5 separate regions of the Homo sapiens genome follow, and regions 2, 3, 4 and 5 are each linked to region 1. Evidence: fine-mapped expression QTL. A gene starts in region 1. Each other region holds a variant in brackets. All regions are shown on one strand. Distances are between the middles of the regions. Region 1 holds the start of NDST1 (N-deacetylase and N-sulfotransferase 1). Region 2 overlaps NDST1 (N-deacetylase and N-sulfotransferase 1). Region 3 overlaps NDST1-AS1 (NDST1 antisense RNA 1). Region 4 overlaps SYNPO (synaptopodin). Region 5 has its middle 8.1 kb from the start of RPS14.

Region 1 (5,099 bases):
TATATGCTAGAAAATGTGGGAGGTGCAAAGAGCTGATGGCATTTCCCCAGCCCTGGTGGGTTTTCTGTTATCTGTGGCTGATGCCATGGAATGTGGGGATTAAGAACCAGACAGATGCTGGTTCGAATCTCAGCTAAGCACTTCCCAACAGGGACCTTAAGCAAGTTGCTTAATCTCTGTGGACCTCAGGCTCCATATTTGTAAAATGAGGCCATGATCAAGTAGAGGCCAAGCATTTAACAAAGAGCCCAGAACATAATGGCATCAGGTGGTTGTATAATGTGTATTCTGCCTGGAACGTGGTCACTGACAACGTGGTGACTGACAGGTTATCGATGGCAGGAAGCTGGGGCCACTGTGCCCATTTCGGGGATTTGCTGCAGAGGTCGGTTATGCTCCCTACAGAATAACCCAGCTTAGATTTAGGAGGGTCTATGGAATCATATGGCATGATTCAATTTTTTAAATTAACTCGTTTTTTAAAATTTTATTTTTTTTAGAGATGGGGTCTTGCTGTATCTCCCAGGCTGCAGTGCCATAGTGCAGTTGTAGCTCACTGCGGCCTTGAATGCCCGGGCTTCCAGCAATCCTCCTACCTCAGCCTCCTGAATAGCTGGGACTACAGGCTCGTGTCACCATGCCTGGCTTCATGATTCTGTTTTATGTGACCAAACTGAGGCCGAGAAAGGAGTGGTACTTGCCTGAGGTCACAGGCAGGTTGTGTAAGAAGGCCGGGCCTAGGATGAGGCAAGTGAGGCATCTAAGTGCAGCGTCTCAGGAGGTGCCCGCTGTGTGCTTGCACATTGTGGAGAATAAGAACCTTTGTTTTTGAGAGAGGGTCTAGCTGTGTCGCACAGGTTGGAGTGCAGTGGTGCAATCTGGGCTTACTGTAGCCTCAACCTCCTGGGCTCAGGTGATCCTCGCACCTCAGCCCTCCCATATAACTGACTATAGGCACACGCCACTACGCTGTCTAATTTTTGTAATTTTTTTTTGTAGAGAAGGGGTTTTGCCATGTTGCCCAGGCTGGTGTTGAACTCCTGGTCTCAAACTCCTGGGTCAACCTGCCTTGAGCTCCCAAAGTGTTGGGATGACAGGCGTGAGCCACTGCACCTGGCAGTGAGCACCTTCTAAAAGGCTCCTCGCGGGCCTCACCTGAGCCTAGTCCTGGGTGAGTTCCTGATCTAGGACTGGAACCCTGGTCTCCTGGCCCCATGAACTGTTCTGGACCCCTGCGAGGTACTTTTTAGAGTCTCGCTGAGGCCTCCTATTCCTCTTTAAAAGGAGCCTCTGTGAAGTAGGTCACCCAGTGCTTTTTGCTCCACGTTTCTGTTCTCTAGCTGTTGTCTGTGTCCTAGAGAAAGCCGGGCCCACTTGCCCCCACCTCTCCCCACCTTCTGCCCCCTCCCCCTGCCAGCTGCGCCTCCATGTAAGTACTTTGAGTCCCTTAACACCCCAAGGCGTGTTGGTGGCCAGCTTTTGTCGTGATGACAAGCCCCAGCAAGTCTACAGGGACTGGCTGCTTTCATGTGGGCCCTCGGTGAAGCCTCCTTGGTCTCAGCAGGCCCTGTGTTGTACCCACCAGGCCTCTAGGAGATTAGGGGGCTTCTGTGGCTCCAGATGGCTCAAAGCTTTTCCCTTCCTCTGTGTTATCCCTAGCCCACCTGGCTTCCGTCCTCACTGGCCACGGGGCTTGGGGGATTTTCAGTCTCTCCAAGGCTCTGGCATCTTCCAGAGTGGGCTAGTCTTGGAGTGTCCATCTGAGCCATTCTTTCTGTCACCACTGCTGGGCCTGCCTGCTGGGCCTTAGGTGACTTCTTGAGAGGTGGCCAAAGCTGCTAATCCCTGGAAGGGGCTCCTAGGATTTCCCTGTGGCTGGCAGGACCCTTGGCCACCCACGTGGTGTGACATGAGGAGCCTGGAAAGCCAGCCCAACCTCCATCCTTAAGCCCCACGTATAAACATACCTTTTTTTTTTTTTTAACTGCAGCTCTCAGAGCCTGCAGTTCTACTGTTGTCAGGTTGCCTTGTGCTCTCCTTGGCATCCTCTAAGAAGGCAAATACCTTTTCAGCTGGGTGCTTTTAAGCATTTGCTGTCAAGAAGCAAGCCCTGGCCAGCCTGGCCCTTTTCCAGTGTTCTGTGTGACCGTGGCCAAGTTGCTTCTCTTCTCTGGGTCTCGTCTTTGTAAGACCCTTTTCAGCTCTAGCACTTTGAGGCTCCAGCATGGATTCTTACACCCTCCACACCTTTGCCGGTCACCTTTCTTCCTTCTCTGCAGGGTGGGGCACAGGGAAGGGCCTGGCAGCTGAGCTGGGTGGGGCCAGGGGCCAAAAGCCAGCATCATAGACACTTTTCCCTCCAGCTGGGCATACCAGTCCTTCCTCTTCTTCTCAGGACAGGTGGGGAAACTGAGGTCTGGAGGGGGAAGGGCCAGGGCTGGAACCAGGACCCAGTTATCCTTATTGCCAGTGAGTGCTCCTCCTGCTGTTGGCTGCTACCTCTCTTGAGAGGGTCAGAAGACCCACTAGCATGAGGGTCAGGGACATGCTTTTTCCTTTCCCGTGGAAGGCTCCTCCAGGCAGGGCTTGGGTGAGGCAGGCGAGGTGCCAGTGGTTCCCTGGGCACGGGGCAGAATCGGAGGAGGACATCCTCTTTCTGAGGTTAAGGAGGTAGGGGCTGGAGGCCTTGACAAGGGAGGTGGCATGAAGGGGCGTGGAGGTTTCTAGGAACGTGGTTGGTGGCGCAGGGTGCTCTAGGGCCACCTCCCTCCCTTGCTTCTGCCTTCCCTTTCTCCTGGGGAGGGGACTGGGCCAACAGTAATGCCATTTTTCCTGGCCCTGGGATTAGGTGCAGCCGTGTTAAGGAGAGGACATTCGAGAGGGCGTGGCGAAGTGAAGAGGAACCTCACGCCACTGCCTGGAGCTCCGGTGGGTCTGGGTCTGGTCATTGTCTCGCTGGCTCCTGTCCACTCTGACCACTGTCCCTGGCCCCCTGCCCTGTCCAGTCCTTCCAGGTCCATCTGAGTGTGTGTGTGTGTGTGTGTGTGTGTGTGTCCCCAGGAGGGATCTGGGGGTACAGGCTGGCACTTGAGCCTGGCACTGGGTCCTGCCTTCATTCCAGATCAGAAGCAGCTCCCGGAACTGCCCCAGGGAGAGGTCTAGGCTGACCTGGCAGATTCCTGATGGAGGAGAAGGAGGAGGAGGCTGAGGGATGGGAAGGAAGGGCTCAGTTTCTCCTGTGGCTTCTCCAGACAGCTAGGCATGTCCACAAATCCACCTGAAGCCAGCAGGTCCAAGAGTTTAAAGATTTATTTCAGGGCCACGGGGGAAGCTGAAATGGTGAGATCCCAGGGCTCTCAGATGTTGTGTTTGTGGCTTTGGTCCTGTCTAGACTGTGAGAGCCATGGCTTGTCAAAGCCAGAGGGGCCCCTAGAGAATTTCCATGTTCTTAACTTGGCTTTTGATGGGGGCCAGTCACAACCACTCTGAATTTGTGTGTCTGGGGAGAGAATCTGCTAATAGCCATCATTAGATTCTCAAAGGGTTCTATAACCCCCAGAAGGTCACAGACTTCTCCTCTAGTCCATACCCCTCACTGCAGTTGCAGAAACTGAGGCTCAGAGAAGGGAAGGGACTTGCCCAGAGACTCACAGGCGGCAATGGAGGCTGTGGCACCCCCTGCCTCTGTCTTCCTGCCAGCATTCTGCCTGACCTTACAAGCTGGGGAAGCTTGGCTCATTCAGGGGACAATGACCTCTCATCCCCTGATGAGAGGAAGGGGATGACTGGGAGGGAAGGACTGGGAGGCTGTTGTGGTTTCCAGGCCCGCATGGATTTTGGCTTCTGCATCCTTGAGATGGAGGCCCCTGAGTCTGCCTGTGCCTTGGAATCTCTCAGGGTGTATCTGAGGCCTGGAGTCGGGCATGCGGGAGGGTGGGGGCTAGTGGTGACCCACATTTCCCAGCTCCTCTGCAGGGGAGGCAGATAGGGGAGAAGCTCAGGGTGTGATAAAATTGTTTTTACTTCACTGGGCATAAATGACAAATAAATGAAGTGAGGGTTGGGAAGTGCTTGGTAGAGCGCCTGGCACATGCCAGGCCGTGAGGCGAGGTGCTCACCATTGTCCTTTGCGGTGCCCTGCTAGCTGAGATCTCCTGCTTCTGACCCTCGCTCCTGCCTCTTCCTTAGCATGAGGCCTCTGCCTGGGGCAGGAGGTGGCCCCCCTTTCTTTATTTTTTTTGAGATGGAGTTTCGCTCAGGCTAGAGTGCAATGGCGCCATCTCGGCTCACTGTAATCTCCGCCTCCCAGGTTCAAGCGATTCTCCTGCCTCAGCCTCTGGAGTTGCTGGGATTACAGGCATGTGCCACACACCTGGCTAATTTTGTATTGTTAGTAGAGATGGGGTTTCACCGTGTTAGCCAGGATGGTCTCGATCTCAGGACCTTGTGATCTACCCGCCTCAGCCTCCCAAAGTGCTGGGATTACAGGCAGGGGCCACTGCCCCGAGCCGCCATCCCCCTTTCTTATATTGGGGTGTCTGATGGGGGCGTGAGGACCCTCTGGCTGAAGTCCTGCCTTGCTGGGTTCCATGGTGCACCTCTCTGCAGTGCAGGCTTTCCCAGGAGGCTGAAGCTCAGCTAGAGAAGCTGGGTCAGCAGCCCTGGGCCTGGTCACCTCCAGGAAGCCTCTCTCCTGGGCTGCAGACCTGGCTTGGGAGTGGTGTGGAAAGTAGGACTGCAGAAGGGTAACGAACAGGGGCTGTGGGGTGGGCTGGGAGGGGCATCCTAGCTCCACCTCTGCCCAGCTGTGTGACTTCGAGCGGTTGCTTACCCTCTCTGAGCCTCCATTTCCTTGTCTGTAAAGTGCTCATAGCAGTGACACCTCTTTCAGGGTGTTAGGATTGAGCGTGATGGAGCAGGTAAGGCTCCTGGCACAGCCCCACATGTTCGCAGGAGCTTAACGTTGGCCGCCAGTAAGGGAGGTTATGATATGTGTTGGGATATGCTGCTTTGTTCCTTTTGAGTGTCTGTGATCTGAGCCTAAGGAAAAAATAGTTCTGGATGGATTTGACTCTGTCATAGGCAGATTTGGGGATAGG
Region 2 (5,099 bases), 50 kb after region 1:
CCAGGTTCCTGTCCCTTCCTCCGTCACAGCATGGTCATTCCAGGATATGGGGACAAACCACTCCTTCCCAGCCAGGGTGCCTTTGAGCCTTCTCATTCCGAGGTCTGCGTTTGCATCCCTGTCGTGTTCTCCCTCGAGGGGTCCTTCCCCAGCCTGTGGGGGCCTGGGTCTGTTCTGAGCTGATTCCCTTTTCTCCAGTTCTCTGCTGGGATGAAGAAAGTTGGACACTCAGTGGGACCAGCTGCAGGTGGTTTCACTGTGTACACAGCAGTGTCCCCATCATGCCTCTCAATGGGGCCTGCAAGCCTGGGAACTTGGGCATCGTTGGGCCAGCAGGATGAGCAGCAAAGGGTCTGAGGACAGGGTGGCATGTCTGCTTGTGTGCTCATGAAGACATGCCCACGCCATGGAGCCAGGGGCTTATAGAGAGGGGCAGTGACTTCCAGAGTCCCATCCGTCAGTGAGGGGACTGGGCTGCGGGATGGGTGAGGATCTTACAGCTCCCAGGTTCGGAAATCTACCCTCTAGGCCTGGAGGCCTCTCTCGCAGAGCATGGAAGGCAGGAGAGGTGGGCTGGCCTAGGGCAGGAGCTCCACTTCTCTCTGCCTCTGGCTATGGGAAGGAGCAGGCGGTTGGAAATCCTGTGACAGCAGAGATCTTCTGGATTTTTGCCTGGACCCTTCTGCAAGCCTGGAGACTGGACCTGCCACATGTTCCAAGTCTGTCTGCCTAGGTCACTGCTGCCACTTCTCCTCCCACTAACAGACCTTTCTTGAAGACCCACTAGGTCCAGACACTGCCGGGACTTGCAGGTATGGGGGGTAGAAGGAGAGGCAGATAAGCTGCCTGGGGGGCTGTTAGCTAATGGGTACAAGGACACCCCCTCCCGAGAAGAGAAGCCACAGATGAGTGGGCCAGCGAGGCCAGTCTTCAATGTCCACTAATTCACTCTAAGCATTTGGCCAAAAAAAGGAGAGAGAAATAACTGAAATTGTTCAGGTGGCTCCATCGTCTATTCTGTGGTCCCCTCCATGAGCCTTTGCCCCAGGGTGGGTGCAGGTGCGAGTGTCACCTGCAGCTGCCTCAGTCATTCAGAGTTCCAGAGCCTTCTGTGGTGGAGCATCCTGCTGCTTGGAGGATGAGTCTGAAGTTTAAAAATGGGCCTTTTCTGAGCCCCCCTGATGAGCAGTCAGTGCTTCTGGGCCCAGCTAAGGAAGCCATCTGTTCCCAGCAGAGGAGAGCTGCTGCGCTGACCTGCAGAGGTTGGTGGTCCCAGCACAGAGCTGTGCCCATGGGCTTGTTAGTGGGAAAAGCAAATACAACAATGTTTTACCAAACATTTAATTATGAATGCCCACTCCCCAGCATCTAGATCTAAAATTATTAACATTTTGCCACATTCTTTTTCTCTCTCTGTGTATGTATATGTTTTCTCTGTCCTAATTTAAAAGTACATTGCAAACATCATGAAACTTGATCCCTGAAAGCTTCAGCCTGCATCTCCTAAGAGTTAGGGCATTGTCCTACACATTGGCCCAGTATCACAGCCAAGACGAGAAGTCATTTCCCAGCGATGTCTGCTATCTAATCTGTATTCAAATCCCCCCAATTGTCTCCCAGGTAACTTATGTGTCTGGTTTTGGAATCAGCATCCAGTCACGGTGCACACATTGCATTTTCTAACTATGTTTTTAAAACCTCTTTGAATGCTGAAAGGTCTTCCCTCAGCTCACTTTGAGTTTTTAAATGACATTGTTTTTGAGGCCCTAGGCCTGCTGTCTTTTTGAAGCCCCACATTCTGAATTTGTCAGATTGTTTGCTCATGGTGTCGCATAACCACTTCTTCTATCCCCTGTACTTTCAAGGATAATTTAGGCTACATGAGATTTTGCCTTTTGTGCTGACTTGACAGCTTCACTTCTGCCTAAGATGCGCCTCCACTGTCACCTGTACCAAGTGCCAAAACAGCAGAGGGGCCAGTTAGAGCAAGAGCTCTGGGGGGGCCGGAAAGTCTCCCTGGAGAAGGCCGTAATATCTGGGCCTTGGAAGGAAGGACACAGGGCTCTGGAAGGAGGAGGCTGCATGCCTGAAGGCTGGGCCTTCGACCCTGGGGATGGGCCACAGGGCACCAAACACATCATATGTCTCTCTCTTTCTATTTTGGGGTCCCAGGGTTTTCATTTCCTGGAGACCCGTGGTCTGTGTGCACTGGAGCAGAGCCAGGCTCTCAGTTGCAGCAGGGAAAAGCCTACATGGGGAACTGCCTCCCGCAAGCTGTGGTGTGAGAAGAGCCCTGGCTGGCAGCAGGAGCTGTGAAGTTTCATCCCAGCCGGGTGCATTTAGTAGCTGCCTGACCATCTTCCTCCCAGGCCCTCAGTTTCTTCATCTGTAGAATGAGCAGATAGGGGCCACAGCAGGGATTTTCACACATCAAAGGAGGCAGCCTCTGCTCTAGTTGATGTGAGGATGAGGGGGCGGCCTAGACCCCCTGCTGCCCAGGCCGTTGAGGCAACACTGGGTTCCTGGCTTGACAGCTGTGGGCTGGCTGCCCTTGCCAGCTCAGACGGCTGGCGAGTTTTCAGCTTCCCTAAGGGACTGGCATAGGGTTTTGTGGGGTCAATGCCAGGAACCTGGGGGAAACTGGATGCGTTTTATCCTAAGAAGTTCATCCCTCCTGCTCTTACTGTTTCCGGCCCTGGAGGAGAATGAGGGAGGAGAGGGTTTTCTATGACTGTGTTAGCTTTTATTATTAGCAAGAGGGCTCCTTTTGTAATTTGTGCATGAAATTCATGTCATTTCCTGGGAGAGGAGAGGGCCGACTGGAGAGGGTGGGGGGCACACTGGGGAAGCAGGCAGAGGTTTCCTTCCCTTGTAGGGGGGTGGGGAGAGTGGGGAGAGGGGGTGCTATCCAGTTCGCCTGATGAGGGCTCTCGAACCAGCCGTTTTGGGTTGTGTTAAAGGTGAGACCTTCCTCCATTAATGTACAATCTC[G/A]AACTAACTGCTAATAAAGTGGGGTTCTGTTTGTACACCTTGGTCCTGTCTGACCTTTTTGCAAGGCCCGCAGGGAAGGGTGGAGTAGGGGTGTTTGCATGCACGGCCAAAGCCCGCTTGTCCCTGCCACCTCAGGCATGCACACGTGCCCACATGTATGCACACACCTATACACATGGTGACTTGGTCAACGCAGATCATTTTCACTGGGTTATAAATGGAAGATTTCCCAGATACAGCAGAGGCCTATCCTAGGGCAGCCACAGGGGGCATCTCAGGTGATAGAAGCCCTCAGACAAGCTGGATTGCTCAGAAGCCCTGGGTGTCGGGCACTGGACCGAGAGGAGACTTGGGGGCTGGAACAATTTCTGCTACTAATGTATATTGTAGCTGGGGGCAAGCCACTTTTACTGTTTTATCCCATTTCCCTCACCTTTTAGACGCATGGAGGGAGTTGGACTCCATGGCCTCACTTGAAGAACTTGCCTAAAACATGCAGATTCCCAGGTCTACTTCCAGAGATTCAGCTCCAGCAGATGTGGGGTGGGGCCCAACATCTTTAAGGAGCCCTCCAGTACACTGAGGAATTTATAAGGAGCCCTCCAGTACACTGAGGCAGCCCAGTGTAACTCTGGCTCAGAGTGGGAAACTCTGACTCAGATCCATGGTTCCTATGGGTTCTAATTAATACGGAGAGCCCCACTGTCCAGGAAAACTTAGGGTAAAACAAATGACTGAAGCCCTCACAGCCTAATTGAGGGCCAGACTCGAGATTTGCCTGGAGAAGGAGAGTTCACAGGTAGGGGCCCAGGCCAGTGTCTGCAATGCAGGTGATCAGACATGCTCCTTCAGAATCCCCTTGGGAAGCTTTAAACAATATACATTCCTGGGCTCCCCCAAAATCTGCTCACTCAGAACCTCTGGGGTGGGACCCAGCACTGTGTACTTTAACAGACTCCTTGGTGTTCAGGGAAGTTTGGGAACACTGAATCAGGCCACCATGTTTGTCAGAGACGGTACCCAGAAATGTGCACAGCTTCTGAGGGACAGAGGAGGGGCATGCTGGGGACACAGCTGGGCAGTCCTGCTTCCCAGGACCCAGTATGTTCAAAGTGAAATACCACAGTGCCACCTCTGATGGCACAAGGGCAGCACCTGCAGAGCCCTCTTTGCAGTTCGTCAGCTGGGAGCTTGGTTTGGGTCAGGTGGCCCTCACCAGCAAGAACACAGCTGGAGGCTGCATGGACAAGAGCAGATCCAGAGGCATGGTGCAGAAAGGTGACTGTGCCAACTGAGGGGTCAGCCTGCAACAGGGATTTTTGAATTTACATACAGCTGAGATTCTGTTTTGAAAGAATCACTTAATTGAAAACCAGGTAAAGGTGGGGGTGCTCTGTGGTTGGAGTGGGAGTGAAGCTCTGGACTCTTCCCAGCTCACCTCCTCCCTGTCTCTCAGGCTATCTTGGAACCCTAAGATTTCTCAAAACACATTGTGAAAACCCAGCCCAGTTGCTTCCAGAGGTCCTAAAAGTCCTGCAGTTCTAATAGGCTGAATGAGTAGCAGCCCATCAGCCCCTCCTCACCCCCCACGGGGATGTCCACCCAGTAAATCTGGTGCCCCAGGAGTGGTTTGGGCTTCTAGAGGTGGGGAGTTACCTTGGAGAAGCCTGGATCATGCGTGTAGGGCAGTGTGTTTCACAATAGGAAAACGCTGGGAACAACCTAGATGTCCATCCACAGGGTCTCAGCTAGGTAACCTCCAGTGTATCCATTCACTGTAATGATGATTCAGTTGAAAGTAATGAGCTCAGTCTCCAAGCCCTGCCAGGGAAATTTCTATGACAGACTTATACAATGTGACCATCATGGAAAGAGAACACTACAGTTTGTATTTTTCCTGGGGTTGTAGATAGACGTCTCATATCAAACTGATACTAGGGGAGGAAAGACTGAGAAGGGGAACTTTCAAAGGAGACTTCAGCCTTGGCTGAAATATATATAAGACAAGGATAATGCATTTGCATATCATTTGTGGAATGAAAAAGTCTTAATGAAAAATAGAAATGGACAAAGCAGAAAGGGGGACTCCAAGCAGCTAGACTTACATG
Region 3 (5,099 bases), 30 kb before region 1:
CATTCCTGTTCTCTTAGTCAAGCTAAATGGTCCAGGGACTGAAGATCCCACAGCTTGGCTCTTTTGCAAGGTGAGGGGATCTCCTGCAGGTTGGGCAAAGCTTCATTTTCTCTTCTGTACAATGCGGGTGAAAAAAATCTCCGCTGTGTCTACCTCTCAGGGCTGCTGTGGGGCACCAAGGAATTGGTGTACAGAATGAGAAAGTTCATTTGTTCTTTCTTTCTTTCTGTTTTTTTTTTTTTGGCGGGGGGGCGGTGGGGGGACGGAGTCTCGCTCTGTTGCCCAGGCTGGAGTGCAGTGACGTGATCTCAGCTCACTGCAAGCTCTGCCTCCTGGGCTCACGCCATTCTCCTGTCTCAGCCTCCCCAGCAGCTGGGACTACAGGCACCCGCCACCACGCCCAGCTAATTTTTTGTATTTTTAGTAGAGACAGGGTTTCATGAGGTTAGCCAGGATGGTCTCCTTCCCTCCCTCCCTCCCTCCCTCCCTCCCTTCCTTCCTTCCTTCCTCCTTCCTTCCTTCCTCTCTCTCTCTTTCTTTCTTTCTTTTTTTTTTTTTTTTGAGATGGGGTCTCACTCTGTCGCCCAGGCTGGAGTGCAGTGGCGCAATCTTGGCTCACTGCAACCTCCGCCTTCCGGGTTCAAGCAATTCTCCTGCCTCAGCCTCCCAAGTAGCTGGGACTACAGGCGCATGCCACCATGCCCAGTTAATTTTTGTATTTTTAGTAGAGACGGGGTTTCCCCATATTGGTCAGGCTGATCTTGAACTCCTGACCTCATGATCCACCTGCCTCGGCCTCCCAAAGTGCTGGGATTACAGGCGTGAGCCACCTTGCCTGGCTTCTTCCTGGTTTTTAGAAAGTACTTTCTGGCCAGGTGCTGTGGCTCACGCCTGTAATCCCAGCACTTTGGGAGGTCAAGGGTGGCAGATCACCTGAGGTCAGGAGTTTGAGACCAGCCTGGCCAACATGGTGAAACCCCCATCTCTACCAAACAAACAACAAAAAACAAACAAACAAACAAAATTAGTTGGGCGTGGTGGTGGGTGCCTATAATCCCAGCTACTCAGGAGGCTGAGGCAGGATAATTGCTTGAACCTGGGAGACAGAGGTTGCAGTGAGCTGAGATCGCGCCACTACACTCCAGCCTGGGCAACACGAGCGAAACTCCGTCACAAAAAACAAAACAAAACAAAACCAAAACCAGGAGGAAAGTACTACATGTGAAATGGATTGTGCTAGCAGCACACAGGAGTGAGGGATGAAGGTCTGGGAAGGCACAACATGCATCTTTAGGCTCTGCCTGAAACAGGAAACCTGGACCCCAAGACAGGACTTCTTTGGGAACCCACTGGAAGTGCTCTTCAAACAGCAGTGGCACTGATGAAAGTGGTGTGTAGAAGGAAAGGGCACGAGGGAATCCCGTGGAAGTGAGGGAAGGAGGCACAGAGCCCAGGTGGTCTTGGTGAATTTGGGGGCTTATGGCCCCTAGGTACTGGGAGGTAGTGTGAGTGGTGACAATAATTGCATCTTTTAGTTGGATGGACCCGGATTCCAAACGTCTTCTGCCACCCCTGTCTGTGTGACCTGGGGGAAGTTGCTGTACCTCTCTGGGCTGCTGAAGTAACAGATACAAGAAAGCAGGTGGCATGCATCAGAGTCAGTAATTAATTGCTGTGAATTACCCACATCCCCTATATCAGTCTTCGGTTTCTACATTTTATATCCATTGTATGGCTGAAGCAGGGATAGCCTTCCCATTTTACAGATTTTCTCTGCTGTTTGTTTAACAGATATCAAGGTCTGCCAGGAGGAAAACAGTCCTAGCACTTGAAAAGTTCAGTGTGTGTGTGTGTGTGTGTGTGTGTGTGTGTGTGTGTGTGTGTTGGGGGAGGGAGGGCGCAGTGGGGGGCGGAGGGAAAGAGAGAGGAAACTGTTACAGCATGTGGTCAATGCTGTAATTATGGTGACCATGTTCTCC[A/G]AACCACAAATCAGGTCACGTGGTCTGACAGAGGCTATTTTCTGCCTCCACTGAAGTCCAAACATGAAATCACATGTAGTTACACATTCATTGAATCACCTTTTCTTTTTTTTAAAGAAGCAAATGACATGAAATTTGGATTGTCCTTGACAAATCCTGCTATATTCCCAGAAAATCACTAGAGCTGTGACTGGGGCCCATACAGACCTCTAGCAGGAGCAAGAAGGTTTCCTGGACCAAGCGCTACTTAAGTGGGACCTTGAAGGCTAAATAGGTTTCCAGGCAGAGAAAAAGGTGGTGGCCTGGATGCCCTTGGGACAGGACTTACTCTTCCTGCTCTAAAGACAGCACTGGCCGGGTGTGGTGGCTCACGCCTATAATCTCAGCACTTTGGGAGGCCAAGGTGGGAGGATCACTTGAGCTGGGGAGCTCAAGACCAGCCTGGGCAACATAGGGAGACCCTGTATCTACAATTTTTTTTTTTTTTTTTGAGACAGAGTTTCGCTCTTGTTGCCCAGGCTGGAGTGCAGTGGCGTGAATTCAGCTCACTGCAACCTCCGCCTCCCAGGTTCAAGCGATTCTCCTGCGTCAGCCTCCCAAGTAGCTGGGATTACAGGCACCCGCCACCATGCCCGGCTAATTTTTTTTTTTGTATTTTTAATAGAGATGGGGTTTCACCATGTTGGCCAGGCTGGTCTCGAACTCCTGACCTCGTGATTCACCCGCCTCGGCCTCCCAAAGAGCTGGGATTACAGGCGTGAGCCACCGCGCCTGGACTTTTTTTTTTTTTTTTGAAACGGATGGAGTCTTGCTCTGTCACCCAGGCTGGAGTGCAGTGGCGCAATCTCGGCTCACCGCAACCTCTGCCTCCCAGGTTCAAGCGATTCTCTTGCCTCAGCCTCCCGAGTAGCTGGGATTACATACGTGCGTCACCATGCCTGGCTAATTTTTGTATTTTTAGTAGAGACCAGGTTTCACCATGTTGGCCAGGCTGGTCTTGAACTCCTGACCTCAGGTGATCCGCCCGCCTTGGCCTCCCAAAGTTCTGGGATTATAGGCATTAGACACTGCACCCGGCAATTCTTTTTTTTTTAAGAGACAAGGTCTCACCCTGTTACCCAGGCTAGAGTGCAGTGATGTCATCATGGCTCACTGCAGCCTCGATCTTCCAGGCTCAAGTGATCCTCCTACCTCAGCCTCTCAAGTACCTGGGACCACAGGCGCACAACACTATGCCTAGAGTATGTATGTATGTAGAGACGGGATCTCCCTATGTTACCCAGGCTGGTCTTGAACTCCTGGGCTCAAGTGATCCTCCTGCCTCAGCTCAGCCACTGTGCCCAGCCTCTGCAAAATTTTTCTTTTTAAATTAGGTGGCACGTGCCTGTAATTCCAGCTACTCAGGTGGCTGATGTGGGAGGATTGCTTGAGCCTGGGAGGTCCAGGCTGCAGTGGGCCATGATCACACCACTGCACTCCAACCTTGGCCACAGAACAAGACCCTGTTAAAAAAAGAAAGAAAGGAAGAAGGGAGGGAGGGAGGGAGAGAGACAGAAAAGTAGCTTGCTGGGAACTGGTGGTGCTGGCTGAAGTAGGCAACAGTGTTTGTTTTCAGTTACTTTTCACTTTCATTGTTCCAAAGACCAGCCCCAGCCTCCTAGGAAACAAAATTGTTACAGACTAAAACAACGTGGTTACACTGCGTTGTATCTTCCTATGCATTACGGCACTTTCTCACAGTGGACCGTATAGTCTTTGAGGACAGGAACCACATCTATCTTATTCATCTCTGTGTCTCCCTATTTCCCTTCTGCCACCAGGATGGTGTGAGGAAGACTATAGAAGAGGCACTAATAATTGTTGAATGAAGAGTGAAGTACCATTGATGGGCATTTTGTTAGGTAGACAGTGTCCTCTGTTTCATAATGAACCTGTGAACTTTCATTTCATCTGTTTATTCAGCAAGTATGTGCTGGTTGCCTACAATGTGCCTGGTGCTGTTTGGGGCACTGGGGCTCAGGGCGTCTGAGACACACACAGTCCTGCCCACATGGAGCTCACAATCTAGAGGGAGAGAGTGGCAGCTGACAGGTAACTACGAGGGTGATAAAGAGGGAGATGTGAAGTGTATACAGGAAGCCTGGTTTGGATTAGGGTCTGAGGAAAAGCCCAGGAGGAAATTAAGTTTAATTGGAGACTTATAGCTGGGGATGGTGGCATGTACCTGTGGTCCCAGATACTAGAGATGCTGAGATGGGAGGATTGCTTGAGTGCAAGAGTTTGAGGCTGCAGCAAGCTGTGATCTTGCTCACCGTACTTCAGCCCAGATGACACAGCGAGAGCCTGACACATTTAAAAAAAAAAAAAAAAAAAAAAAAGGCTGGTAATCCCAGCACTTTAGGAGGCCGAGGCAGGCAGAGACAGGCAGATTGCTTGAGCTCAGGAGTTCAAGACCAGCCTGGGCAACATGGTGAAACTCTGTCTCTATAAAAAATTAAAAATTAGCTGGGCTTGGTGGCATATGCCTGAAGTCCGAGCTACTTGGGAGGCTGAGGTGGGAGGATTGCTTGAGCCTGGAAGGTCAAGGCTGCAGGGAGCCGTGATCACACCACTGCACTCCAGCCTGCAGGAAAAAAAGAAAAAAGAAAAAAAGAAAAAAAAAAATCTCAGACCTAAAGGATCACAATGAATCATTCATCTAACATTTAAACAGTCAACCCTCTATACCCACAGATTCTGAATCTGTGGATTCGACCGACCATGGATCGAAAACATATTTTAAAAAATTGTCTGTATTGAACATGTGCAGACTTTTTTTGGGTCATTATTCTCTAAAAAATATAGCAATTCTTTGCATACAATTTACATTGTATTAGGTATTACAAGTAATCTAGAGATGATTTAAAGTATATGGGAGGATGTACATAGGTTATATGCAAATATTAAGCCATTTTATATCAGGGATATCCACACATTTTGATATCCATGAAATGTCCTGGAATCATTCCCCCATGGATACTGAGGGACAACTGTAACTGTACAGTGCTTGTCCTATAACAGATAACACACTAAGGGCTTTACATATTTAACTTATGTAATTCTCACAACAGCCCTGGGAGG
Region 4 (5,099 bases), 150 kb after region 1:
AAACCAGGCTTTGTGGGGGGTGAGAGAATACAGACACAAGTGGCAGGATTCAGATGGAAGCTTCGCAAGGCTGGGGGCCGAGGACCACCCACTTCTCTTTCCCAGCCCTAGTTCTGGGTTCCCCAGTGGGGCAAGGGGTGGTGGAGGCAGTGCCCATGCTGGGCTGAGCCTGCAGTTTTTGTGAGCTCTGGGCTTGTCTCCATGGGAACAGGGGTGCCTTCTTAGTGAGCTCATTTCACACAGATCGAGGGGGTATGCGTGGGGGAGTTGTGAGTGAGCTCAGCTCCTTCAGGCCTGGCCTCTCCCAGAACAGAGTGAAGCCCCTGCCCTGGACCCCTGCTCCCTTCTACCCTTGAGGGCCACCAATGGAAGAGCCCGCCCTTCATTCTGCAGCTCCTGCGGCCAGGCTGAGCTCTGCCCCCAACTTTGTTTTCTCTCATGTTCTCAATACACTCTGCCTCAAATCCGTCTTGCTTCTTTCTTTCTTCCGTGCTGCTAGGGGTCAGGGTTCCCTTCCTCCTGCCTGATTCTAGCCTGGGAAGTGGAGTGGGCCTGCTCAATTACTGTGTGTGAAAGTGTGGCTGTGTCCTGCGTGCTGCCTGCACCTGCCGTGTGTCTGGTTCTGCACTGGTACAGACGTGTGCTGGGTTGGAAATGAGGGCTTCCTCTCTACAGCACTCAGGGAGCCAGAACCCTGTGCAAATCGCAACCTTTTGTTCTTTCCTTCCCTCAGAGTTTGGCCAAAAATACTTTAGAGGATTTTTGGGGAAAATGCACTACCTCTTCTCGTTGAGGTTTGTTTGGGTTCTTTACAAGTGGAATAGAAATTCCTCTAGCCAGCATTCGCTCTCCAGTTCCCTCAGGTCCCCTCCCTGCTCCCCATTATCTAAATTTGGCCATTTCCCACATTTGCCATTGTTTTCACTGTCTGGATCCTAAAAGCATGGAGTTTCTGCCCCTGGTGGGGAGGAAAGAACTGCCATCAAGGGTCAGGAGAGCTGGGTTCTAGCCCCAGGTCTGCATCTGATTCGTGTGTGACCTCAGACAACCTCTTCCAATCTCTGGGCCTCAGTTTCCCCTTCTGTGCAGTGAAAGGATTACAGAAGGAGGTCAGAGACCATTTGGTCTCCGACAGTCCAGGTTTGACTGTGTTCTACTTATGTATTCACCCCACACATGTGCCCTGCTTTGGGTCTGGGGTTGGGTTGAGTGGATGCTACTTTTTGAATTTTCACCCACCGCATTCCCAAGGAGCTCTGGTGTGCACGGTGCATTGAGCTCTCTGTCAGAAAGTGAACAGTTCTGATTTCCTGCAGCCTTTTCGTACTGTGCACACCCCCGACTCAAAAACATACACACAGAGTCAGTGCCCAGGCATGGCTGTTAGGGTGAGGTCAGGCTCTGGCCCATCTCCAGATGATGGGGATCTGCTTACCACTGCCCTCAACATTCAATCCCGTTTGAGCCCTTCTGTTTTGTAGTCTTGGCTGAATTGTTATTTCTTCCACTTGTTGGCCTCAGCATTCCCCTTGTGGCCACCAAAGGCAGAAACAATGCTTTAGAGATTTTTAGGTAGTTATCATAGCTCTCCTGTGCAGCCTACTCTCCTGGCTGAAGACCCCAGGTTCCGCTGCCTTGGGTGGTTATTGACTGGCTTGGGTCATGAACTCTAGGCCCTACCTCCCTGCTCAGGGTGGCACTGTGGTCAGGTGTTGGGTCATGCCAGAGCCCACCCTGATTTGGCATTTGGCCCTAGCCCTCCTCTTCTAGCCCTGGAGCTGGGACCTTCCTCCCAGCTCCTCTCCCTAAACTGTGGGGTCTGCCTTCTGCGGCCAGCCTGACTGGGATGTTCCACTGGCACAGAGAAGCTCCCAGTGTCTCTGGCTCATGTATACACAATTCTGACCCTGGGAAGAAAACAGTGGGATCCCAGGCTGAGCCTTAACTTTCAGCTTGATGACTGGGAGCTTGGATGTCCCTAGGGAGTCTCTAAGGGTCACTCCAGCATTAGTATCCCATGAAAAATGTCCTGCTCAGGCTGTTGTATAACATTCTTCTTTAGGTTAAAGGGCTCCAGTTTGGAGTCTGGGCTCATCTAGCAGCTGCTACATTCTGTTTGGATAAAACATACAATTGGTGTCTATTTCCTTTGGATTGGGAGGAATTAGAAGACTCTCAGTTGGATGAGAGGATGACTGGCTTGGTTATGGCTGATCACTGATTGGATGAAAGAATAAATCTTTGGATGGTTCTAGATTTTGATCGGGTAGGAAGCATGGAATGGACTGGCTAGCTCTGAACTCTGGTGGATGACTGCTAGTGAATTTGGATTGGATTAAATGGCAAGGTGGACTGGTTATTGCTGGAATCTGATTGGGTGAACAGTTGGAAAGTTCAGGAGATACATGTTAGGCAGGGATTCCCAAGCCCTCCACTTTCAAACCAGTTCAAACCGCTTAAACATGTAGCCTTTGAGCAGCACACACACACACACACACACACACACACACTTCCTGGTGGGGCAGAACACACTAGATTGTTATTTACACCTCTGAGCTTCATTTTCATCATTTGTAAAATGGGTGTGGTAATGCTAATTACCTCACTAGTCTGTTGTGAAAACCTAATGAGATAAAGGATGAGAATGAAGTTTGTAGACTGAAAGTCCTTAAGTACATAGGAAACAGGTATGGCTCTGCATCGCTGACCAGTGCTTCATAGCCTCCAAGCTGTTCACCATCTTGGCCTCTCCAAAACCACACTCCCCTCCCCATTGCTGTGAAAAAGCTCAGTGAGGGGCGTGTGCTGCCTAGGGAGGAATGGCCCGACTTCCTTTTGTATCTCCATCTGTCAGGGGCATCTTCCTCCCTGTTCAGGCATCCAAGGAAAGATGATGAGGTGACCATGGCAACATGGCAAATGGTTTGGGGCTGAGAGGGTCTTTCCCTAAGTCCAACTTTAATAATAGT[C/T]GGCCAGGCGCGGTGGCTCACGCCTGTAATCCCAGCACTTTGGGAGGCTGAGGCGGGCGGATCACCTGAGGTCAGGAGTTCGAGACCAGCCTGACCAACATGGAGAAACCCCGTCTCTACTAAAAATACAAAATTAGCCAGGTGTAGTGGCAGGCACCTGTAATCCCAGCTACTCGGGAGGCTGAGGCAGGAGAATCACTTGAACCCAGGAGGCAGAAGTTGCGGTGAGCTGAGATTGTGCCATTGCACTCCAGCCTGAGCAACAAGAGCGAAACTCCATCTTAAAAAATAATAATGGTCAATATTTTTACATTTTAATTTTGATAATAGATAATACATTCATATGGTTCAGAAATCTAAACTTATATAAAAAGTAATATATTAAAAAGCCTTATTCCCATCTCCCTGCCCCAGCCTACTCTCTTGGCTGAAGAGCCAGGTTCCCCTGCCTCAATAGTTGCTGACTGGCTTGGGTCATGAGCTCTAGGCCCCACCTCCCTGCTCAGGGTGACACTGTGGTCAGATGAGAGGACACACAGAGCCCACCCTGACTTGGCATTTGGCCCTGAGACACTAGTCTCAGCCTCTATCTAGTTCTTCCCATGTGGCCCTGGGCCCGGGACCTCCCTCCCAGCTCCTCTCCCTAAGTCATGGGGAAACCGAAGCCTCCCTCAGCTAGCCTGACTGAAAGCTTCCCGGGATGTGCCACAGACAGAGCAGCTCCCAGTGCCTCAGACTGTGTGCCCTGTTCCTGTTCTCACCCCATTTCCTAACAGGTGACCATTTTGGTTAGTTTCATGTATATCCTTCTAGTATTTTTTTTAAATTGAGACAGAGTCTCGCTGTGTTGCCCAGGCTGGAGTGCGGTGGCACGATGTCGGCTCACTGCAACCTCCGCCTCTGAGGTTCAAGCGATCCTCCTGCCTCAGCCCCCGCAGTAGCTGGGACTACAGGCACGCGCCACCGTGCCACTAATTTTTGTATTTTTAGTAGAGACAGGGTTTCTGCATGTTGGCCAGGCTGGTCTCGAACTCCTGACCTCAGGTGATCCACCCGCCTCGGCCTCCCAAAGTGCTGGGACTACAGGCGCGGGCCACCGCGCCAAGCCCTTCTGGTATTTCTTTATGGTAATCAACATCTATTGAGCACTTTCTTCCAAGGAATGTGCCGATATATGTAATGTTCTTTTCCATCAGTTATCTCATTTAACCCTCACAACAACCCTATAAGGTTAAGTACTGTTATCACACCCCATTTTACAGAAGCAGAAACTGAAGCCCAGAGGGGTGAAGTAACTTGCCCAAGCTCAGTTAGTAAGTTAAGGCGGCTCTCTCCAAAGCGAGTCTTCTTAACACGGAGGCAGACACAAGACAGCGGGGACTCTTCAGGCGTTCCGGGCTGAGAGTTTGGGCGCCTGCGTTTTATTGCAGGCACTACCTGACTTGGATCGGTGGCTTCCCTTCTCGGTGTAATGGACAAATCGGACTCCGTCCCTTCCTAAAGCCCGGTGTGGAAGACCTCAGCACTAATGCCTGCCCCACCCTCTCTGCTCTCTCCCCAGGACCGCCGGGAGAGCCTGCCCACCTCCCCACCCTGGACGCCGGGCGCGTCCCGGCCCCCCAGCAGCCTAGACGGCTGGGTGAGCCCGGGCCCGTGGGAGCCAGGTCGCGGGAGCAGCATGAGCAGCCCCCCGCCGCTGCCGCCGCCACCGCCCATGTCTCCCTCGTGGAGCGAGCGCTCGGTGTCCCCGCTGCGACCTGAGACCGAGGCGCGGCCCCCCAGCCGCCAGCTGCAGGCGCTTCTGGCGCGAAACATCATCAATGCGGCCCGGCGCAAGAGCGCCTCCCCGCGGTCGGCGGGCGCCGAGAACCCGCGGCCCTTCTCCCCGCCGAGGGCGCCACCGCCCCCGCCCCCGCCCCCGCCCCCGCCCCCGCGCATGCGCTCGCCACAGCCCGCCCGCCCCGGCTCGGCTGCTGTGCCGGGGGCAGCCTTCGCGCCCATCCCGCGGAGCCCGTTGCCCGCCGGTCCTTCGTCCTGCACCAGTCCCCGGAGCCCGCTGCCCGCGCCTCCCAGGCCCTTCCTCTACCGCCGCTCGCCCACGGACTCCGACGTGTCCCTCGACTCCGAGGA
Region 5 (5,099 bases), 50 kb before region 1:
GTGGATCAATTGAGGTCAGGAGTTCGAGATCAGCCTAGCTAACATGGCAAAACCCCATCTCTACAAAAAATACAAAAATTATCTGGGCATGGTAGCGCGCACCCATACTCCCAGCTACTCGGGAGGCTGAGGCATGAGAATCGCTGGAACCCAGGAGGCAGAGATTGAAATCGTACCACTGCACTCCAGCCTGGGTGACAGAGTGAGACTCTGTCTCAAAAAAAAAAAAAAAAAAAAAGAAAAAGAAAAGAAAATGAGAAAATGGATCCAACAGGATTTACTGATAGATTAAACTAGACATGGGGCATGGGAAAAGAGTGTTGTCAAAGATGATTCTAGCATTTATGGCTGGAGGAACCAGAAGGATGGAGTTGCCCTCAGCTGGGGTAGGGAAGGCAGAGGGTGGAGGAGGTTTTTAGGGGAAGATCAGATGCCCACTCGTAGGCCTGAGTTTGAGCTGTTTATTACATACCCGAGTGGAGCTGTCAGAATGACAGCTGAGATAGATGAATCTGGAATTGAGAAGTGGATCAGGGCTGGAGGTGTAAATTTGGGAGTCTCCAGCATACAGATGGTATTTAAAATCACAAGACTGATTTTAATCACGAGTCCCGCCAAGGGGCTGAGTGTAGATAAAGAAGAGGCTAAGGACTGAGCGTTGAGAGCATGGGGATAAGAGAAGGAGAGAGCCAAGAAAATAAGCCATGAACAGAAATGAAAGGAGACCAGGAGAGGGCACATCCAGAAGGCAACTGGAGAAATGCAATCAAGCAGAAGGGAGTGTGCACCTGTGCCATCGCGCTTAGAGGTCAAGGATAACAAGGGCTAAGGATGACCGTTGGATGTAGCAACATGAAATACTGGGGACTTTGACAACAGCAGCTTGATTGGGGGGCTGGGTGGGGGGAGTGCAAAAGTGTGAATGGAGTAAGAGAGGGAGGTCCACACCTCTTGGACAGCTCTTTCCAATATTTATTTATTTATTTATTTATTTATTTATTTATTTTAAGATAGAGTCCCTCTCTGTTACCAGGCTGGAGTGCAGTGGTGTGATCTCAGCTCACTGCAATCTCCACCTCCTGGGTTCAAGTAATTCCCGTGCCTCAGCCTCCTGAGTAGCTGGGATTACAGGCACACGCCACCACACCCAGCTAATTTTTGTATTTTTAGTAGAGAAGGGGTTTCACCATGTTGGCCAGGATGGTCTCAATTTCTTGACCTCATGATCTGCCCACCTTGGCCTCCCAAAGTGCTGGGATTACAGGTGTGAGCCAGCATGCCTGGCCCAATTATTATTATTTTTTTAATTTTTAAAATTTTGTTATTTTTGAGACAGAGTCTCACTCTGTTGCCCAGGCTTGAGTGCAACCTCTGCCTCCCAGGTTCAAGCGATTTTCATGCCTCAGCCTCCGTATAGCTGGGATTAGAGGTTTGCACCACACACCTGGCTAATTTTTGTATTTTTAGTAGAGATGAGGTTTCACCATGTTGGCCAGGCTGGTCTCGAATTCCTGACCTCAAGTGATTCGCCCGCCTCGGCCTCCCAAAGTGCTAGGATTACAGGCATGAGCCACCGTGCCTGGCCCTCATTTTTCTTTAAATACTGAGTCTCCCTAAGTTGCCCAGGTTGGTCTTGACCTCCTGGGCTCAAGTGGTCCTCCCACCTCGGCCTTCCAAAATGCTGGGATTACAGGTGTGAGCCACCATGCCCAGTTCCTTCATAGACAGCTCTTGAGTTTTTCTGCAGAGGTGTGCCAGGGGGCAGATGGAGAATGGGAATGTGAGATCAAGAGGTTCTTTTTTTTCCTTTTTTAAGGTTGCATCAATAACAGATATTTTAACACTGCTGGGAATAGTCTAGAAGTGAAGGAAAAACATGCTGGAGCCCTGACATTGAGCAGGCAATAGGTAAAGGCCTCTGCTGCGCATGTGGAGGCATCGGCTTTAGGCAGGAATGTGGACAGCTCACCTCAGGTGCTAATGAGGAAGGAAGACGGTGGGGGCAAATGTGGCAGCAGGAGCTGGAGAAAGTTCTCATTCC[G/A]GAAGTGGAAAGCAAGCAGCTTCCTCTCAACAACCACAGGAGGTAGAAAATGTTTAATCCCCCCCGTTATAACTGAGGACACAAGGAAAAGGTCAACAGCTCTAAGTGGGGCACCAGGATCTGGGCCCAAGCAGTCTGACTCCAGAGCCCAATTCGTGTAACCTCAGGTACAGGTGTTTTGTAAATATCTGTTGATTGGATGAAGGAAGAGCAAGGAATTAGCCTGCAGCAGCAGAAGCCAAGCCCTTTCCTGGGTCCTCAAGCTCAACCTGGAAGGCCCCGTGCTCCCCATTCTCGGCAGCAGCTCATACTGTCATTTGTCCAGGAGCTCTATCCCCTCCTCCCCTTGAAGGGTAGTTTGCAAATGCAACAGAGGAAGGGTGGGAAGAAGCTGTGGCTCAGAGAGGGTGAGTTTGCTCACCAGGACACACAGCCAGGAATCAGACACCAACTGTGGCCCAGGTGGTCCTGGGACTTGGAGGGAGGACCTTCTCAAAAGTGTTGGCTGCTGTGAAGCTGTCGTGGAGTCATGGGTCTATTGCTGGTCTGAGCCCCAGAACACACATGAGCGCTAGTCTGCGTGTGTAAGTGTGGCACACAAGGGAGAGCGGCGGTGTGTGTGTTGGGGATTAGGCCAGGTGCACACCCTCCAGGGTCCAGGGGAGGAGGGGCTACAAAAGGCCTGGAGATGGCTCCCTCTGTAGCAATGCCCCTCTAGAGACCGGCAGGCTTCGTCCTCCAGGGCTGTAATTCACCTGCTCCCCGTGCTCACAGGACTCACACGCGGTCTGCGAGCAACTGATGGGAGCCCCTGTGTGCCCCAGGACCTGTCATCTCAGCACTCGCCACACAGTGACCGTGTCACGGCCTGCTGCCAAGGGGCTTTGTCTAGCAGGGAATATGGGCAAGAAACAAGGACAAAGTAAGGAACGGGGGATACGGAGGGCTCTGGCTTGCTCAGGGGCCTTGCTGGAGGGCCCAAAATGGGAGTAGGAGACAGCCAGGACAGGAAGAAGAGGGTGGGAGAAAACTCCCAGCTCAGGCCGGGCGCGGTGGCTCACGCCTGTAATCCCAGCACTTTGGGAGGCCAAGGCGGGTGGATCACGAGGTCAGGAGATCGAGACCATCCTGGCTAACATGGTGAAACCCCGTCTCTACTAAAAAAATAAAAAAATTAGCCAGGCGTGGTGGCGGACGCCTGTAGTCCCAGCTACTCAGGAGGCTGAGGCAGGAGAACGGCGTCAACCCGGGAGGCGGAGCTTGCAGTGAGCCGAGATCGTGCCACTGCACTCCAGCCTGGGCGACAGAGCAAGACTCTGTCTCAAAAAAAAAAAAAAAAAAAAAAAAAAGAAAAGAAAAAGAAAACTCCCAGCTCACGAAACAGCACGTGGAAAGGTCTTGAATCAAAGGGGACCTGGGATCATTCAGGGATTCGGGAGAAGTCTCTGTGCTGAGGGGAGGGGGTGGGTGGGAGGTAAGATCAAAGGTTGGGGCCTGGGCCTTGGGGGCGGTGGGTGAGAGGTCTCCCTCGCTCTGACCCAACGGAGGCAGATCCTCGGTTTGATCCTGGGCCCAACTCTGCTCAGTGAGGAATGTCGGGGCGGGGTCCCGGGGTGCGGCCCCACCCACGGTGCGTGGAATACAGGGGCGGGGAACGCCCGCTCTTCCCGAAGTGCCCGCTAGATGGCGCCAGATCTCCGTGCTGCAGGGGAAGGACCCGCCTCGGCGGGGCAGGTACACGTGGAGGGTGGAGGGTGGAGGGTGGAGGGTGGAGGGTGGAGGGTGGAGGGTGGAGGGTGGGCGGAAGGCGCAGGGTGAGGTGTCTAAGCCCAGAAGATGGTTGGGACGTCCTAGGATGTGGTTGTGATGTGACGACGGCCTTGATGTACATTCTCCCTTTGTGTCCCATCACACCCCAGGAGCTCAGATTATTATTCTCATTTTACTCAGCGGGAAGCTTTAAGTAGGATGAGGTCAGGGCTGCGCCCAGGTCACTCAGCTGGTTCAGGGTGGTGAAGTGGACAAAGATGGCACCCGGCCTCTGTGTGCCCTGCCTGCCGCAGGCCAGCTCGCAGAGGGCCTGCGCTCAGTCCATCCAAAGGGAAGGGCAGTGCCAGGGCAGCCCAATGGCTGGCAGTGCCAGGGCATGGATCCCGAGTCGTTTATTCATTCAGCGGGTTTATTGAGCACCTACTGTGTGCCAGGCACTGGTGAGCGATAAAGCAACGGATAACACAGACATGGGTCTCCTTCCCCACGGAAGGGACAACCTAATGGGGAGACAGCCAGGCGTTATACAGATAAGCCTGCCAACAACTTTATTATTAGAGATTGTGGTAAGGGCTATGAAGGAAATACGCACACCTGAGAAGATTCCAAGGTAGGCTCACTCTCGAGGTGGGCAGGGCTCAGGCACAGGGAGGGCTCAGGAGGAGATATGGAAGCTGAGACCTGAAGCGTGCGAGGTGCAGCCATGAGGAGGGCTGGAGGAGCAGCCTTAGGGGCAGAGAGGACAGCAGTGCACAGGCTGCCAAAATTGGGAGGAGCCCGAGGAACTGCAAGGAGGCGGGGCTGGGGCCAGGAGAGAGAAGAGTGTTAGGGCTGTCCCTGAGGGCAGGGGCCAGATCCTCTGGGCCTGCTAGGCCCTGCCTTGTCAAGGAGTGTAGATTTATTATTATCGTTGTTGTTGTTGTTGTTGTTGTTGTTGTTATTATTATTATTATTATTATTATTATTATTATTATTTTGAAACAGTTCTGCTCAGTCGCCCAGGCTGGAGTGCAGTGGCGCGATCTCGGCTCTCTGCAACCTCTGCCTCCCAGGTAGCTGGGATTACAGGCACGTGCCACCACGCCCGGCTAATTTTTGTATTTTTAGTAGAGACAGGGTTTCACCATGTTGGCCAGGCTGGTCTCAAACTCCTGACCTCAAATGATCCACCCGCTCCGGGCTCCCAAACTGTTAGGATTACAGGCGTGAGCCACTGCGCCCGGCCAACTGTAGATTATATTCTGATTGCATGGGAAGGCAGTGAAGAGCTTTAAGCAGGGAGCCACAT

The links.
Region 2: its variant is fine-mapped to the expression of NDST1 in blood mononuclear cells (TOPMed, PIP above 0.99). The same link has a PIP of 0.9 or more in lung, sigmoid colon and whole blood.
Region 3: its variant is fine-mapped to the expression of NDST1 in whole blood (TOPMed, PIP above 0.99).
Region 4: its variant is fine-mapped to the expression of NDST1 in whole blood (INTERVAL, PIP 0.98).
Region 5: its variant is fine-mapped to the expression of NDST1 in whole blood (TOPMed, PIP above 0.99).

What each region holds. Positions count from the first base shown.
Region 1 is chr5:150,505,299-150,510,397 of GRCh38, forward strand. NDST1 (N-deacetylase and N-sulfotransferase 1) reads left to right here and starts at 2,833. Exons shown (of 15, transcript NM_001543.5): 1 at 2,833-2,928. RefSeq lists an enhancer at 4,817-5,099.
Region 2 is chr5:150,555,186-150,560,284 of GRCh38, forward strand. It overlaps NDST1 (N-deacetylase and N-sulfotransferase 1), which reads left to right. Exons shown (of 15, transcript NM_001543.5): 15 at 1-3,026. Among named protein-coding and RNA genes, the nearest start is that of NDST1, 50 kb to the left of the region's middle. RefSeq lists an enhancer at 1,923-2,092. The variant G/A (reference allele first, on the strand shown) is at 2,992.
Region 3 is chr5:150,475,595-150,480,693 of GRCh38, forward strand. It overlaps NDST1-AS1 (NDST1 antisense RNA 1), which reads right to left. Exons shown (of 3, transcript NR_105061.1): 3 at 1-165. Among named protein-coding and RNA genes, the nearest start is that of NDST1-AS1, 7.8 kb to the right of the region's middle. RefSeq lists an enhancer at 1,226-1,395 and a cis regulatory region at 1,311. The variant A/G (reference allele first, on the strand shown) is at 1,980.
Region 4 is chr5:150,651,874-150,656,972 of GRCh38, forward strand. It overlaps SYNPO (synaptopodin), which reads left to right. Exons shown (of 3, transcript NM_007286.6): 3 at 4,531-5,099. Among named protein-coding and RNA genes, the nearest start is that of MYOZ3, 6.8 kb to the right of the region's middle. RefSeq lists an enhancer at 1-245 and silencers at 4,509-4,728, 4,869-4,928. The variant C/T (reference allele first, on the strand shown) is at 2,970.
Region 5 is chr5:150,455,292-150,460,390 of GRCh38, forward strand. No RefSeq gene overlaps it. Among named protein-coding and RNA genes, the nearest start is that of RPS14, 8.1 kb to the left of the region's middle. RefSeq lists a silencer at 3,611-3,680 and an enhancer at 4,485-4,584. The variant G/A (reference allele first, on the strand shown) is at 2,042.